5 linked regions of the Homo sapiens genome follow. The protein of the gene in region 1 purifies or fractionates together with the protein of each later gene. This does not show direct contact. Each region holds a gene or a part of one and is shown in the gene's direction. Other genes may lie near its edges. The genes, in order: ACBD6, CAMK2D, CTU1, UGGT1 and TULP3.

What was found.
Region 2: the proteins of ACBD6 (region 1) and CAMK2D purify together in Homo sapiens (pull-down; one study listed by IntAct). This does not show direct contact.
Region 3: the proteins of ACBD6 (region 1) and CTU1 purify together in Homo sapiens (affinity purification with mass spectrometry; one large-scale study listed by BioGRID and IntAct). This does not show direct contact.
Region 4: the proteins of ACBD6 (region 1) and UGGT1 purify together in Homo sapiens (pull-down; one study listed by IntAct). This does not show direct contact.
Region 5: the proteins of ACBD6 (region 1) and TULP3 purify together in Homo sapiens (affinity purification with mass spectrometry; one large-scale study listed by BioGRID and IntAct). This does not show direct contact.

The regions. Positions count from the first base shown.
Region 1 is NC_000001.11:180,492,571-180,496,090, reverse strand, and holds part of ACBD6 (acyl-CoA-binding domain-containing protein 6), read left to right. Parts: intron 1-565; coding exon 566-630; intron 631-3,520. UniProt on the Homo sapiens protein: Binds long-chain acyl-coenzyme A molecules with a strong preference for unsaturated C18:1-CoA, lower affinity for unsaturated C20:4-CoA, and very weak affinity for saturated C16:0-CoA. Does not bind fatty acids. Plays a role in protein N-myristoylation.
Region 2 is NC_000004.12:113,499,723-113,503,242, reverse strand, and holds part of CAMK2D (calcium/calmodulin-dependent protein kinase type II subunit delta), read left to right. Parts: intron 1-265; coding exon 266-307; intron 308-2,731; coding exon 2,732-2,780; intron 2,781-3,520. UniProt on the Homo sapiens protein: Calcium/calmodulin-dependent protein kinase involved in the regulation of Ca(2+) homeostatis and excitation-contraction coupling (ECC) in heart by targeting ion channels, transporters and accessory proteins involved in Ca(2+) influx into the myocyte, Ca(2+) release from the sarcoplasmic reticulum (SR), SR Ca(2+) uptake and Na(+) and K(+) channel transport.
Region 3 is NC_000019.10:51,098,409-51,101,928, reverse strand, and holds part of CTU1 (cytoplasmic tRNA 2-thiolation protein 1), read left to right. Parts: intron 1-2,789; coding exon 2,790-3,328; 3' UTR 3,329-3,520.
Region 4 is NC_000002.12:128,181,681-128,185,200, forward strand, and holds part of UGGT1 (UDP-glucose:glycoprotein glucosyltransferase 1 precursor), read left to right. Parts: intron 1-449; coding exon 450-610; intron 611-1,994; coding exon 1,995-2,109; intron 2,110-3,520. UniProt on the Homo sapiens protein: Recognizes glycoproteins with minor folding defects. Reglucosylates single N-glycans near the misfolded part of the protein, thus providing quality control for protein folding in the endoplasmic reticulum.
Region 5 is NC_000012.12:2,935,871-2,938,764, forward strand, and holds part of TULP3 (tubby-related protein 3), read left to right. Parts: intron 1-1,760; coding exon 1,761-1,859; intron 1,860-2,243; coding exon 2,244-2,415; intron 2,416-2,894. UniProt on the Homo sapiens protein: Negative regulator of the Shh signaling transduction pathway: recruited to primary cilia via association with the IFT complex A (IFT-A) and is required for recruitment of G protein-coupled receptor GPR161 to cilia, a promoter of PKA-dependent basal repression machinery in Shh signaling.

The DNA.
Region 1 (3,520 bases):
TATTTTTGAGAACCCATGAAATTTTTTGCATGGCTTTTGGCATCCAAATTTATATTGATGAATTTCATAATAGGGTACTTTAAAAGTAGTACACTGTTTTCCCTGGAATTTTGGAGAGTTAAAATGCTAATAGCGTTATGAGAATCAGCATGAAGAAACAGTGTTATGAATTCTGATAAATTATGAATTCTAAACCTTATTAATTTCATATTAAAAATTCTTTTACTTTATACATGGTAATAAAGAGTATTTAATCTATATTGATAACTTGTCTTATATATAGTCTACTAACTTCGAAGTGCAACCGTTTATCACAGTTTTTCTGTATTACAGTATTAGATAATAGTTGTTTTATGCAGTAAGCCAAAGTAGGCTGTATGTAATGTTTGATTCTGTTTGATTGTTTTTGTTTGCTTTGGCAAAGAATGTTAAATTTTGCTATTCCATATAGATGCAAATATTTTCCAACCTATGGTTACTGAATATACATAATACATTTGAAAAGGAAAAGTTTCCCAGACATTTCTTTGAAAAATAAGTTCTTGATTTTCCTTCCCTCATTTAGGTCAAAGTTGGAAATTGTAATACTCCTAAACCAAGCTTCTTTGATTTTGAAGGAAAGCAAAAATGGTAAGAAATTCCTGGAATCTTTAATGAGGTTGTTGGAAATGGCTTAGGTGTTTAGGAATTAGAAAGCAGTGAGCTGATTAAAGAATTATTTTTATATTAATCTCTCTCTCTGCTGTAGATTGTACTAATGACAGGCAATTGGGAGAGATTAAAGAAATCTACTTTTAGCTAAGTCTCCTGAAGGATTCTTATGCTAGCATGTTGGAATATAAGTGGTTCACAACAGACATACATGCCTTACATTTTAATACCATGAGAGCTATTGCTTGAGATTTTCCTTTCCTGTCATTCAACCCCTAATGGATCACCACTTCTCCCCTCTGGAGGGATTTTTGGAAGAAGGCCAGAATGATGGGAAGGGCAGAAGAGCAGGATAAATCCCCATTTTTCACCCATCTTCCTTGTCCCAGTTTTATCTCCCTGTCTCTTGCTACTTACTCTTGTGTTCCTTGCCCCACCCATGCCACAGTAAATAACTGCTTATAGTACTCTTGGGAAGAAGGGAAAAATTCAGTGAAAAGCCAAAACCAGATACTAACTTCTCTTTTTCTCTGAATATATAAAAAAAAGAGTATACTTTTGCAAACTTTTTTAACTTATAATTCAGAAGTTCCCCCTTGTCATTTATGAGACCTTATCTTCTCTTACCTTGTCTAAGTGAAAGAAGAGAAATTGCATACAACTGGGAATCTTAGTTATAGAAGGGAAGGCTTTGGAGCATCAGCCCTGGAATTAAGGTTAGAAGGTAGAGTTAGAAAAGAAAAAAGATAAAATATGGTTATAGAGAGAGGAAGTGATAAAATATGGGTTCTTACTTTACATTCTAGAGCAGTCCCACATAAAATCTGGTCCCCTGGATACATTTCCTGCCTGCCAACTGTTTGTTACCCAACTGTTAGGAGATACAGAGCTTGAACCCAGATATAAATCACGTATGTCACTAACCACGCTGTTTAGTTCAGCTGATTTTTTTTTGTATAGGACAGTCTCAGTGAAGGAAGCAGTGCATTGATTATATTCTTGCACAAGTTTTTTGGTTGATGATAACCAGCCAACATATTATTACTGTTCTAAAGAATACCTGATGTTAACGTTGACAGTGAGTTTTTTGTTATAATTTATGAAATTTTATACCTTTATTTTTTTCTGTGCTTTGCCTGTTTCTCCATTGTTTTTAGCAATTAAAAAATTTAGATTTTATAGCCACCATAATAATAGTTTATGCAAGAACATCAACGAATGATTAAATATTAGATGATAAAATATTGGGGAACTGTTAGAGAAAAACTATTGAGGAAAATTTTTGTTAAAATGCTAGGTGAAAAACTATTGGGGAGCAAAACCGTGGGTTACAGGCTGACCCACCATTTACTTTTTAATTATGAGAGAGAAACCTGACAGTTACTGCCGTTACCAAACCATGAATCTTATTGATGATGGGACAGACTAACATCACGTGCCCCCAGTGTGATGCATTGAAAAGGGCATGTCACCTATATATTACTCTGCTGAAATAATTTAACCCAATTCTAATCATGATTAATCATTTTTGGCAAGAACACTGTAGGTAAGGAAACAATTAGACAAATTCAAATTGAGGGATATGTTATAAAACAGTTGGACTCTTAAAAAATACCAACAATGTGGAAGACAAAAAAGCTGAAGATACATGAAACTCAATGCTGTGTGTGGATCTTGATTGGTTCCTGGTGTGGGAGAAGAAAGCCATAAAGGACATTATTGGGACAATCAGGAAAATCTGAATGTATAGCCTCTATATTGTATAATAGTAATTGATGATAAATTTCCTGAGTTTGTGTAAGCTGATCTATTTAGGGATGAAGTGTTATGATGCGTATAAGTAATTCTTAAGGAATTCAGTGAAAATAAATTTAGAAAACCTCAGAAAGATATTATATTCATCATAGAAGCAGGAAGGTAGTGAAAAAATGTGGGATTGAGTTCTGTTTGACAGCAAATCAGGGAAATCGAGAAACACTGGTTGGAATTTAGAAAGAATTGGCAGGGAAAAACCAAGAAGAAGGCCTGTCCTGGCAGCCTGTTGTGGGGGCAGGGGGGTAGATGACCCAAAAGGAAGCTCAGGACTAAAATGTTGCTTTTGCCATTTATATTGTAGGAAGTCCCTAACTTACTCATTAGTATTCTTTAGTTGCTGTTGTTGTTTTTTTTTTTTTTTTTTTTTTTTTTTTTTTGAGACAGAATTTTGCTCTGTTGCCCAGGCTGGAGTGTGGTGGTGCCATCTCAGCTTACTGCAACCTCTGCCTCCCAGGTTCAAGCAATTCTCCTGCCTCGGCCTCCAGAGTAGCTGGACTACAGGCGCACACCACCACGCCTGGCTAATTTTTGTATCTTTAGTAGAGATGGGGTTTCACCATGTTGGCCAGGCTGGTCTCAAACTCCTGACCTCAGGTGGTCCACCTGCCTCAGCCTCCCAAAGTGCTGGGATTACAGGCGTGAGCCACCAAGCCTGGCCAGTATTCTTATTTCTGCCCTCACCATCCCTTACTTTTGAAGTCCCAGACTAAGTCCCCAGGATCAGTTACTAGAAGCTTATAGATGAGATAACAGCAGAAAGGGAAGGTGGATTTCTTGTATCTTAGTAAGAAGTTTGATGCATTTTCCTTGGGAATATTGTTTTTTATGTGATGATTAGTTTCTGTACGACCAAAATGCCATAAGCACAGTTAATTTATGAGAATAATCTCTATTAGTCTGTAGATCATATATCCTCAATAGGGGTGAAATTTTGTTTGAGGAAATTATAAAATCTTAGATTACAGTGGTTTGTGGTCTTTCAAAATTTAATAGCTATGCATTGTATCTGTGTTTTTAAAATTTCACGGGGAGGACGATTAGGAAAAAAAATGTC
Region 2 (3,520 bases), on another chromosome or scaffold:
AATATCAAAGCCTTGTTTGAATGCTGATCAAGAATAAGGTCTTTTGCATGCTGCTTCTGGGTAGGGAGGTTCCTATCTCATGGCCTCGCCAGGGAGATCTTTCATCAGAGATATTGTCAGCTGCAACTCTGACAGCAGTTAACATCGCTTTAGCTCTTGTCACTATTTCATTTTGTCAGCTGGCTCACTCTGCTCTGTCCTTCACACTAGAAAGAATGTACTTACCAATGCGAACTGTTTCTTTCTCTATTTTGTTCTCACTCAGGAGCCCCAAACTACTGTAATCCACAACCCTGATGGAAACAAGGTATTCAGAAAGAATCAACATCATCTTGCTTTAACAAGACTATACATCTCATCAAATATTCAAAAAAATTAATTCGTTATCTAAAAATAGGAAAGAAAATTCTAACCATTTTCTACCACACTTCCTTTTGGGCCTAATTTATCTAGAACTATGGACATACTTCTTGCAAATAAAAATGAATGACATCTTGAAAGAGAAACTAATGTTACCATGAGTCAATAAAAGTCAGGCTAAACATGAATGAAGTCTTTATGTCAAGATGACTGTGTGTCTTAAGCAATTCCATCTGGTCATTTTTTTCCCCATGACTTTGTGCTTTGTACTGTAGATATATTGTGCATGATATTTTAGAATTTCTGGCAATATTCCATTGTCTTCAAAAATATCAACTTGACTTTATAGGTTTTTTTTTTTGTTTAGTGTTACTTTTGAGTTTTATTCTATTCTGTTGTCAGAGTGGTGTTTTTTTTTTTTTTGGTTTTTGGTTTCTTAATTCCTTGTTGGTGATGATGTTGTTATTGTTGTTATTGTTGTTGTTGTTGTTGTTGTTTGGCATGAATTTGAGGTGAATCAAGGAGTTTCACTTTTTGTGAAATATGTTTGTTGTTGAGTAATATATATTCCAGTAACAGGGGTTTAACTACTTAGGTTGAAAGAAGACTAAATGTTTCCTATACATTGTAAATTATTTGTATAGCATGTTAACTAAATAACAGCACTAGCATACATGTCTATAGGATGAAAGACCTTTTCTGAATGTATTCCATGTGTCCAATTTCTTACTTTTCATATATTATTATATCTCTAAGGGAAGAAAAAATACTAAACTTTTCTCAAATATTAGATATAGTCATGCATCTTCTCCATACTCTTATCAATGATGTTTAAGACTTAGAAAGCACATTTTATCTTAAGACTCAGAAAACACATTTCCTCTCTGGTTTAACATTTAATTGATCAATATTAAAACCATTAAAGTAAAAAACATGAAGTGTTATGTTCTTTAATATGAGATTTATTTTATAGTCATGACACTGCAAATGGTCTAGGTCCCGAAAAGCCTTGAGGTAGTCAGGACCATCACATATGAGAACAATTTTTTTAATAGCATTAGCCAATGAAACGCCAAGCATAACAGCTGGAATGGACACTTCAGTAGTTCTAGCTATATCATTTGTAAGAGTTGCTGCATGATATTTCTTGCTGACATGAATTAGTTTAATTTTACAGTGCATGGGTTTACCTTCATTTTCAGCTTACATTTGAATACTAGGTCACATTAAGAAATGCATGAAGATTCCTTTCTTTGGTTTTGTGTGTATGGAGACTCTGGGTACACCTTTAATTAGTTTTTCCCTTGGTTTAAATATTGTATATGATATTTATATAAATTGATCACTTTTTTGAATACTGAATCTCTAAAATGATACTGGCTGGTGTTTACATTATTTTCCAGAATCTGTTTTCCATTACTGAGCTATTGATTGGAAGTTTGTTTCCAGTTATTTTTGGCTCTAGCATTTAATCATTCCAAGTAGAAAACTATGTCTTTCTTATGAATATTGCAAAATTTATTTGCTAGAAAATATTTTACTCATACATTATTAATGAGCACATTTATCACACCATTTTAAGAAATGTATCTTAATTCTGGCAGTTACAGTGTACTTTTAAGTGTGCTTAACAATCTTCCACTTAATTTGTAGTTTTACAAAGAAAGAGCTTTGTCTTTTTATTATGGAGTAGGTTTCTTATCAATAACAGCCAGTTGCTATTTTTGAAAAGAATGAAAAAAGTCTAATTGTCCTTGAAAGTAAATTATTCATTATAATTCCATTGTGCTGAGGACAAACATGAAAATTCTTCTCAAAAGTACTTTCAGCATATCTCAGCTTAACCCCCTTAGCTTCTTCATTAAATGATGCGGTGAAATGCTTTCTCTCCCTATAAAGGTGTAAGGCATACAGGCCTTAACATAGTGCCTGACGCAAAGAAGGTACTCTTTATTGATTAATTAATTGGGAATAGAAATTTTTTCTATTTTAAGTATCAAATTCATTCGGCTAACATATTCAATTGCTTGTAGACACACAGAAAAAGCAAACCTTATAGGGCACTGTAACACAAAACACATCCTTACACAGTTTCTAAAATAAACTGCATACTTCCGCTGCTTCTACAAATCACCTGGATTTATACAGCTTCGGAGATTAGGCAACCAGAGTACTCCGTTTGAAATGTTTGCAGCATCAGACATTTTATTTCTGTTAAAAACCACTTAATGTGTTTGTCCATTTGCATGTCAGCATATGCACATAGCCTGCTGAAGAATTTTGCATGATATGTATGTCACTAGCCAATTTTTAAGGAGGAAATCAAGCTATTCATTGCGTGCAACCTAAAAATGTGTTTTCTTCTCATCAGGAGTCAACTGAGAGTTCAAATACAACAATTGAGGATGAAGATGTGAAAGGTATGATTTAACCAGAAATGGAAAATCCTACCTCAGAGCTTCACATATATATATGAAAAAAAAAGTGCTTCAAATAACTAATAAGTTTAGGAAGTAGGCCTATCCTAAAGCACAAAAATATTTTATTTATGAGTAAAAAATATTTTTATAAGTACATAATTATTTCAACAATATGTTACTTTTGTCATTTTTCCTACATATTCTTTTATATATTTTGAACTGTAGACATGTAGCATATTCTAGCACATTGCAGTAATGACAACTAATAATGAGTTACTAGTTATAGGAACATAACAAATTGTAAATTTGTCAGTCAAAAAGTAATATAAAATGTATACACATTGGGTACATTCATAAAACCTATCTGGAAAACAATTTATATTCAAGGATACAGTATAAAAATAACTTTTTAACTTTTAGTCATCTCAAATAATATCAGTAGAATTTTCTATTTGGCCGCCTTTTTATCCTAGCTTTTTGTGTACATTCCAAAGGTATTCTTGACCTCCATTCACTTTGGTTGCCAAGGTTCTTTTAGCTACATGTATGAGTCATTGGTAGTGTTTCTACAGACATCTTCTCAGTGCCCCTGCACACACATACTGAACACACATTTGCAGTTAGGTCACCTCCTTTGGCCACATCACTGTTTTAGAAGTATTACTTTTGTATCAATTGCATTTGCAGTTTTATGTTGTTTTTGTAATTCATTATATATAACTACAGTCTCTATAGACCAG
Region 3 (3,520 bases), on another chromosome or scaffold:
TTCCAGAAAAATCCCTGACTTGCAAGGTGATTTCTACCCTTTGTTTATACACTCCATTTTCAAAGGCGTAGTATAATAATTGTTGTAATAATTATTACAAAACTGGGAGCTCTTAAGTGGGTTTGTAATGACAAGGTGTGGAGCAAATCCAGTCTCCCCTAATTAATGTGGTTTACAACTTTAAGTCAATAAACATTCAACGAGATGTCGTTTGCAGTAGCAAACATGCCCAATCTCAAGGTCACAGGGCTTGGCAGGTCTTTGGGAGGTAACCATTACTACAAACACAATTAGAGCCAAGTTCTTGGAGGTTTTTTACCATATAGACCAGGGCCTCTCAACTTCAGCCCTATTGATATTTGGGGCCAGATAGTTTGTTTTTAGGGAGCTGTCCTCTGTGTTATAGGATTTTAGCAGTATCCCTGGCCTCTACCCACTAGATGCTATTTAATAGTAGTGCCCCACCCCCAACCTGACACACAGAAATGTCTCCAGCCATTGCCAAATGTCTCTGGGGGAGGGAAGGAGGGCAGACTCATCCCAGATTGAGAACCACTGATATAGACTCAAGTATAACTTGACAAGACACAGAACAAGTTTAGCTTCAATTTCATGGTGACCAGTGTGTAAATATTTCTCACTGTTACTTCTAAACAAAGATAACACAAAAACACTGCAGTGATTACAGGGGTGGTGACACATGCTAGTAATCCCAGCCGCTTTGGGAGGCCGAGGCAGGTGGATCACTTGAGCTCAGAGGAGTTCAAGACCAGCCTGGCCAACATGGAGAAACTGCGTCTGTATAGAAATACAAAAATTAGCTGGGCATGGTGGCACACACCTGTGGTCCCAGCTACTCTGGAGGCTGAGGCAGGGGGATCACTTAAGCCCTGGAGACAGAGGTTGCAGTGAGCTGAGATCGTGCCACTGTCCTCCAGCCTGGGCACTAAAGTGAGACCCTGTCTCAAACACACACACACACACACACACACACGCACAATAAAACAAAATGAAAAAAAAAAACCATAAAAAAACTACAGTCTGGGTTGTCAGAGGCTCTGTGTCAAGAACCAGTTGTTTTCTCTGGCTGCTGTAACAAATTACTTCAAATTTCACAGCTTTAAACAACACAGATTTATTATCTTGTAGTTCTGTAGATAGAAGTCTGGGAAGTCTCACCGGGCTAAAATCAAAGTGTCAAGAGTGCTGCCTTTCTCCTGGAGGCTCTGGGGCAAGGGGGTCCATTTCCTTGCCTTTTCCAGCTTCCGGAGGCTGCCCACATTCCTGGCTGATGGTCCCTTCCTCCATTTTCTTTTCTTTTTTTTCTTTTGAGACAGAGTCTTGCTGTGGAGCCCAGGCTGGAGTGCAGTGGAGTGATCTCGGCTCACTGCAACCTCTCCCTCCCAGGTTCAAGAGATTCTCATGCCTCAGCTGGGGTTACAGGTGCCTGCCACCATGACCTGCTAATTTTTGTATTTTTAGTAGAGATGGGGGTTTTGCCATGTTGGCCAGGCTGGTCTCAAACTCGTGGCCTCAGGTGATTCTCCCACCTTAGCCTCCCAAAGTGCTGGGATTACAGGCATGAGCCACTGTGCCCGGCTCTTCCTCCATTTTCAAAGCCAAGGATGGCAGTTTGAGTCCTACACCGTTTGCATCACTCTAACCTTGCCTCTGCCCTCACACCCCCCATATGCAGTAGGCGGGTGGCAAATGAGGTATCCCCAAGTTCCCCAGGGAGCTTGTGTGTGTTCCCCTCTCAATTCCTGCTGTGTCCACCTCCAGCCACCACCTAGCTGCACCACAGTGCCCAGGGGGCTCCATGGCCCCATCTCCCTCTCCCGGTCTCTGGGTCCTGGCTGTCCTATGGTGCCAGAGGGGCTCCATGGCTCAGGCTTCCCCTCCCCATCTCTCTCTGGGTCCTGGCTGCCCACTATGTTCAAAGGTCTCCATGGCCCTATCTCTCCCTTTTCTGCCTCCCTCCTCCCCTCTAAGGGTCTTTGTGATTACCTTGAGCGCACCTGGATAACGCACCATTCTGTCCCTATTGTAAAGTCAGCTGATTAGCAGCCCCAATTCAACTTGCAACCTTAATTCCCCTTTGTCCTACAACCAAACATATTAACAGGTTCCCAGAATTAGGCCATGGATTCCCTAGGCGGTGGGGGAGACAGCAGCCTGCCTACCCCTCCAGCTCTCCTGAGAATCTCGGTTAAATGCCTTAAATGCCTTCTGATTTTTGTGTACAGTTTGAATTACGGTTTTAACTGAGGCTGATAAGGTTATTAGCAGCATAATGCACTTTTACTCCCTATATGAAAGGGCAACTAGCATAAGGTCCGCTATGCAGTAGGCGGGTGGTACATGAAGGCACGCCCAAGTTGCGCCAGGGGAGCTTATGTTTCTCTTTGATTTTTTGTTGTGTCCACCTGCAGCCTGCACCTGGCTGCTTCACGGTTCCCGGAGGGTCTCCATGGCTCGCTCTTGCCCTCCCCGTCTCTCTCTGCGTCCTGGTTGCCCACAGTGCCCTAGGGGTCTCCATGGCTCTCTCTCCCCCTCCCTGTCTCTGGATCCTGGCTGTCACACCATGTTTGGGGGTCTGTCTCCATGGCTTGCTCTCCCCGTCGCCGTCTCTCTCTGGGTCCTGGCGGCCCCACTGTGCCCTGGGTCTCCGTGGGTCTCTCCTCCCAGTCTCTCTCTGGGTCCTGGTGGACCCTTGGTTCCCCGGGGGGCTCCCTGGCCAGCAGCGCCCTCCGCGCCCCACCTCACCCGCTCCCTTCTCTCCCCACCAGGTCACAACGCCGACGACATGGCGGAGACCGTGCTCATGAACTTCCTACGGGGCGACGCGGGGCGGCTGGCCCGGGGCGGGGGCCTGGGCTCTCCCGGCGAGGGGGGCGCCCTGCCGCGCTGCCGCCCGCTGCAGTTCGCCTCGCAGAAGGAGGTGGTGCTGTACGCGCACTTCCGCCGCCTCGACTACTTCTCCGAGGAGTGCGTCTACGCGCCCGAGGCCTTCCGCGGCCACGCCCGGGACCTGCTCAAGCGCCTGGAGGCGGCGCGGCCGTCCGCGGTGCTGGACCTCGTGCACTCGGCCGAGCGCCTGGCGCTGGCCCCGGCCGCGCGGCCCCCGCGCCCCGGCGCCTGCTCCCGCTGTGGGGCGCTGGCCAGCCGCGCGCTCTGCCAGGCCTGCGCGCTCCTGGACGGCCTGAACCGCGGCCGGCCCCGCCTGGCCATCGGCAAGGGCCGCCGGGGTCTGGACGAGGAGGCGACGCCGGGGACGCCCGGGGATCCGGCCCGGCCCCCCGCCTCCAAGGCCGTCCCCACCTTCTAGCGACTTCGGGCCTCCCGCCGGGATCTGATGCCGCGGGGTGGGGGCTGCCTGTAAATGACACTGTGAATAAACCCGTTACCTTACCTGGCCTTCCATGTGGGGTTGGGAAGGAGACGGGGGCCCATTCACCTGAAACCCTGAAGAAGCTGGGACCCCAGACTTCGAGGTCTCAGGGAAGAAGGGTCTCGAACT
Region 4 (3,520 bases), on another chromosome or scaffold:
CTTCCACTGGCTTAGCCTGAAGTGTGCCTTCCTGATTGTAACATAGCCACATTTAATCCTTGTTGAGTACTTACGATGGGCAAGGCATTATTCTACATCTGTCCATCCATATGTTAACTTACATAATCCTCCCAGCAACCCTGTGAGATAGGTACTGTCATTATCATTATCTCCATTTTACAGATGAAGAAACTGAGGCACAGAAAGGCTAAGCAGTTGAAATTTGTTTTATTCCTACTCCCACACACCTTGCTAAGAAGTGTCTTACATGTTAGTGAGTCAACCAGGTAATAAGTGGAGCAATCAAAGTGCATCTGCCCCTAGTGCCTGTGCCACTAACCACGGAGCAGCCTTCCATGCTGCCTTAAGCGAGCCACTCTGTATCTGAAGGAAACCGCATTAGAGCTGTCTGCATGGTTGCTTAACAAATGACTTTTTATATTCTCCAGATTGTACGAACAGATCTGAAAGAGTTAAGAGATTTCAATTTGGATGGTGCTCCTTATGGTTACACTCCTTTCTGTGACAGCCGAAGAGAAATGGACGGCTACAGGTTCTGGAAGTCAGGGTACTGGGCCAGTCATTTAGCCGGGCGAAAGTATCATATCAGGTACTGAAAAGAAGCACTCCTAACACTGTTACGGGGTTTTCCTTAAAATTGATTTTGTGTGGTTAAAATTGTGAATAGGTAATACATTGGTATGGTTGAAAAATAAAAATGATAAAAAATACACAGTGGCTGGGTGCAGTGGCTCATGCCTTAATCCCAGCACTTTGGGATGCCAAGGCAGGTGGATCACCTGAGGTCAGGATTTCAAGACCAGCCTGGCCAACATGGCGAAACCCCGTCTCTACTAAAAATACAAAAATTAGCTGGGCATGGTGGTGGGCGCCTGTAATCCCAGCTACTCGGGAGGCTAAGGCAGGAGAATTGCTTGAACCCAGGAGGCGGAGGTTGCAGTGAGCTGAGATCACGCCGCTGCACTCCAGCCTGGATGACAGAGTGAGATTCCATCTCAAAAAAAAAAAAAAATACAGTGTAAAAAAAACTTCCTAATCCTGTCTCTCTCTTTCCTACTCAGTTCCTGTTCTCACAGCAGATAACCTCCCAACTTATTGACTGTCTATCCTTCCAGATTTTCTTAATTCTTACAGAAACAGCTGTGAATGTGTATTCTTTTTTTTTTTACACAAAATATGCTACCTATTTATACATTTTGTAACTTGGCTTTTTTTTTTTTTTTTTTACTTAATGTCATATACATCTTCTCAGTGAATAGAGAGAGACCTGATTCCTTTTCATAGCTGCATATTATTCCAGTGTGTGAGTGTTATTTATAGTTTTCCCTGTGACCTACAATGTTGCAATGAATAATCTACTAAATAATTTTTCATATCTCATATATTTGTGAGATAAATTCCTAGACGTAGACCTTTTAGGTCGAACAGTGTGTGTGTTGTTACATTTCTAATGAGCACCCCATTCTCTTCTCTGCGAGAAGTGTGATTTGAAGATGTGCAGGGAAGAGGAACGTGTAGGAAGCGGCACATGCAGAGATCACTGCTGGGGTTTAGTGATGGTGGCTTCATTCTTTACATTCCTGGTCCAAAAGAACTGTAAGGACTGTAACACTCTGGGGTTTTCCCCCCCCTGTAACATTGAAGACATCATCAGGATATCATTGAATAATGGTTGTTTATCAGTTACTATGGCTTTTGTTACTGCCGCATATGCTAGAAATCTTTGGTCTGAGATTATTTCTTTCGGATGGCAAATACAGAACAGTAACAAAAGCATAGCACAGTATAGATTTTGCAGTGACTTTCTTAGAGATCTTTAAAGTAGCACACTTTAACTCCACTGTAGGGCTGTAGCATACCTTTTCAAAGAAAAGCCAGAATATTTGGCTAGTGGCCTGTTCCATTATTCATTGGGTTTAGTTTTCCTGTCGTAATCCATGGTTGGTTGTAACAAGCGGGTCTTCTTTATTCAGTGCACTATATGTTGTGGATCTGAAGAAGTTTAGGAAAATAGCTGCTGGTGACAGACTCAGGGGACAGTACCAAGGTCTGAGTCAGGACCCTAACAGCCTTTCAAATCTTGATCAAGTAAGTGTCCATTTTTTATGGTTAACTGTGAGTGACGGGTATACAGTGTTGCATCAGAAAATGAAGTATTACTTGTGTCTTCAGTCCTCTCCTCACAGGATGGCGTCTTGTTTTTTCATGGTGTGTGTGTGTGTGTGTGTGTGTGTGTGAGAGAGAGAGAGAGAGAGAGAGATTTTTATCTGCCCTCAAGACATATCAGCGTGAAAAATGTCATAGATTTGATGCTGGCTGGGGAGAGAGATGGAAGGAGAATGCTGCCTCTCTGAACCATTAGCATATCTTTGTATTTTGTACTCAAACTAATCTCATAGGTTTGTTTCTCTACCTACTAGGGTCAGTTTGTTTTTCTGCTGTAGGAACTAAATAGCTCAGGATTCGTAGTATAGAATCACAGTATAGTATCACAGCTTCCCCTTTTTCTATGTCAGAAACCATGATGTGTTTCAAGGCTAGCTAAATTACTGTTTGTTAATGTTAAGCATTTTTCAGAGGTGAGATTGTAGTTTAAGGGTTTTGGATACATATTTCACATATTTTAAGCATTTTATTTTGCTTAAGTCTACTTAAATGTTTTTAAACCTTTATTGTGATATGTAGCATCCATAAAGAAAAGTATACAAAAAACATACATACATATTCACATACATCCAGGAATTATTATGAAGCAAATACCCAGATACCACAACCTAGTTCAAGAACTAGAACATTATCAGCATCCCAGAAGCCATCCTTCCTCCCTAACAAAAGTGTCTAGCATCACGACTTTTATGGTAATCATTTTTGTTTCTTTATAGATTTACTGTTTAAGCATGTATCCATAAACACTAGTTTAATTTGCTCATTTTCTTCTCCTCTATCTCAATGGAATAATAAAAGGTAAACTTTTTTGTTTGTTTGTTTGTTTTGAGACAGAATCTCACTCTGTTTCCCAGGCTGGAGTGCAGTGGCATGCTCTGGGTTGCACTCACTGCAACCTCCACCTCCCGGGTTCAAGTGATCCTCCTGCCTCAGCCTCCTGAGTAACTAGGATTACAGGCACGCACCACCACTCCTGGCTAATTTTTGTATTTTCAGTAGAGACAGGGTTTCACCATGTTGGCCAGGCTGGTCTCAAACTCCTGACCTCAAGTGATCCACCCGCTTTGGCCTCCCAAAGTGCCGGGATTACAATCACGAGCCACAGTGCCCGGCTCTACTTACTTTAAAATTTGTGTGATACCTGGTATCTTCTAATTTATGGAGCTACTATGGATCTGATTCTGTTGTATTATTTCTGTTATTCTTTTGTTCATACTGTCTATCACATATTTGTTTATCTTCTGTAGTGTGTCAGGCGTTGTTTTTGCAGAATTATTTTGGGGAATAATTTGAGTTCAAAAATGGTATCACCCAACAGTATTTGTTTCTCTCT
Region 5 (2,894 bases), on another chromosome or scaffold:
GGCAAGAGGATCACCTGAGTCTTAGGAGGGTCGAGGCTGCAGTGAGCCGTGATCACACCATGCACTCTAGCCTGGGCGACAGCATGAGACCCTGTTTAAAAAATAATAATAATCGGCCAGGCGTGGTGGCTCACGCCTGTAATCCCAGCACTTTGGGAGGCCGAGGCCGGTGGATCACCTGAAGTCAGGAGGTGGAGACCAGCCTGGCCAACATGGCAAAAACCCGTCTCTACTAAAAATACAAAAAAAATTAGCCAGGCGTGGTGGCAGGCACCTGTAATCCCAGCTACTCGGGAGGCTGAGGCAGGAGAATCGCTTGAACCCAGGAGGCAGAGGTTGCAATGAGCCAAGATTGTGCCACTGCACTCCAGCCTGGGTGACAGAGCAAGACGCCATCTCAAAATAAAATAAGAATAATCTGCTTGGCTTGACAGGCATTTTTAATACCTAGTGCAGGCCTTATTTAACCACAACTAATTTTCACTGTATGTAATATAGTGCTATGCCCTCACTGGGAAATAAATATGTGTTGGTGCTGACAAAGTTGAACAGTTTGTTCACAGTTATCTCAAATCACATTTAAGACTCAAGAGTAAGAGGCCGGGCGTGGTGGCTCACTCCTGTAGTCACAGCACCTTGGGAGGCCAAGATGGGCGGATCACCTGAGGTCGGGAATTCGAGACCAACATGGAGAAACCCCGTCTCGACTAAAAAAAAAAAAAAAATACAAAATTAGCCGGGTGTGGTGGCGCATGCCTATAATCCCAGCTACTCAGGCTGAGGCAGGAAAATTGCTTGAACCCGGGAGGCGGAGGTTGTGGTGAGCTGAGATTGTGCCATTATACTCCAGCCTGGGCAACAAGAGTGAAACTCTGGTCCCAAAAAAAAAATAGTTAAGAGTAAACTCTCAAGCCAAGAGATTCTGTTTTAAATGTAGGTGTTTAAAGAAGGTATAGGCCAGGTGCAGTGGCTCACGCCTGTAATCCCAGCACTTTGGGAGGCTGAGGCAGGCAGATCACGAGGTCAGGAGATCGAGACCATCCTAGCCAACTTGGTGAAACCCCGTCTCTACTAAAAATACAAAAAATAATTAGCCAGGCGTGGTGGCATGCGCCTGTAGTCCCAGGCTGAGGCACAGGAATCGCTTGAACCCAGGAGGTGGAGATTGGAGGTTGCAGTGAGCTGAGATTGTGCCACTGCACTCCAGCCTGGCGACAGAGCGTGACTCTGTCTCAAAAAAAAAAAGAGAAGTATAAAGAGATATAATATTACTTTCCTGTTTTTGATTCTGTTTACAGCAAAGTAATAAAATTATTTTTGGTACACCTGATTTTTTTTTTTTTTTTTTTTTTTTTTTTTTTCTGAGGCAGAGTCTCACTCTTGTCGCCCAGGCTGGAGTGCAACGGCGTGATCTCGGCTCACTGCAGCCTCTGCCTCCTGGGTTCAAGCAATTCTCCTGCCTCAGCCTCCCGAGTAGCTGGGATTACAGGCGCCTGCCACCACGCCTGGCTAATTTTTGTATTTTTAGTAGAGACAGGGTTTCACCATGTTGGCCAGGCTGGTCTCAAACTCCTGACCTCAGGTTATCTGCCCACCTCGGCCTCCCAAAGTGCTGGGATTATAGGCGTGATCCACTGCCCCGGCTGATACAGCTGATATTGTCAGCATCTTACATTCCCAAGAAAGTCTCATGTTATAAAAGAATGTGGTCTCTATTTTTTTCCTGTTTCCAAGTTCTGCTTTGTTTTCCTATCTTCCAGGAAACAAACGTACTTGGATTTAAAGGTCCTAGGAAAATGTCTGTGATCATTCCTGGAATGACACTGAATCATAAGCAGATCCCCTATCAGCCACAAAACGTGAGTAAGAATGTATTTAAATCAGTGAAAGACTCTAAAAGACAGTAGTACAATACACAGAGATTAATACAAAAAAAAAAAAAAAGATTGAGCTTCCAGAGCCCCACACTGGAGATAGCTCCATACACTTCTTTAGGAAAGCTGCCCCTCCAAAACCTCAGGATAAGAGCAGTTGCAGAGTCATTGCCTTGAAACCATTTTTTCTACAAAGAGAAATGCTGGATGATGTAGAATAATTTTAAAAAAAACCTGTCTTCATTGTTGGCTTTCATTCTTCGCTTCTGGTTTACCCTTTCTGAAATGGAGAAAGTATTCTCCTACTCTACCTTCTACCTCGTAGAGTTGGAGTTCTCAGTACAAAGTAATGATTTTCCCTTTGGACAGAACCATGACAGTTTGCTCTCAAGGTGGCAGAACAGAACTATGGAAAATCTGGTTGAGCTGCACAACAAGGCCCCCGTCTGGAACAGTGACACTCAGTCCTATGTCCTCAACTTCCGTGGCCGGGTCACTCAGGCGTCTGTGAAGAACTTCCAGATAGTCCACAAAAATGACCGTAAGCCTCCAGGAGGGGTTGGGTGGGAAGAGGAGGACAGATGCTCTTACAGGATGGGAATGCACATTCCCTGTACATGATAGGAAGTGACAGTCAGCAGATAATCATGGAGGAGAGACAGGATTTCTTTGGAAAGATGAAACTACAGTTTTAGAGAAAACTTGTAAATCACTGTGTTGAGGAGGGGAGAGGAGTGTGAGAGAGATGCTATAGCAAATCAGAGAAGTTGGCTGGGCACCATGGCTCACGTCTGTAATCCCAGCACTTTGGGAGGCCGAGGTGGGCAGATCGCTTGAGACCAGCCTGGGCAACATGGTGTGAAACCCCATCTCTACAAAAAATAGAAAAATTAGCTGGGCGTGGTGGCAGGCACTTGTAGTCCCAGCTACCCGGGAGGCTGAGGTGGGAGCATCACTTGAGCCAGGAGGTCGAGGCTGCAGTGAGCTGAGATTGCATCACTGCTCTCCAGCCTGGGTGAC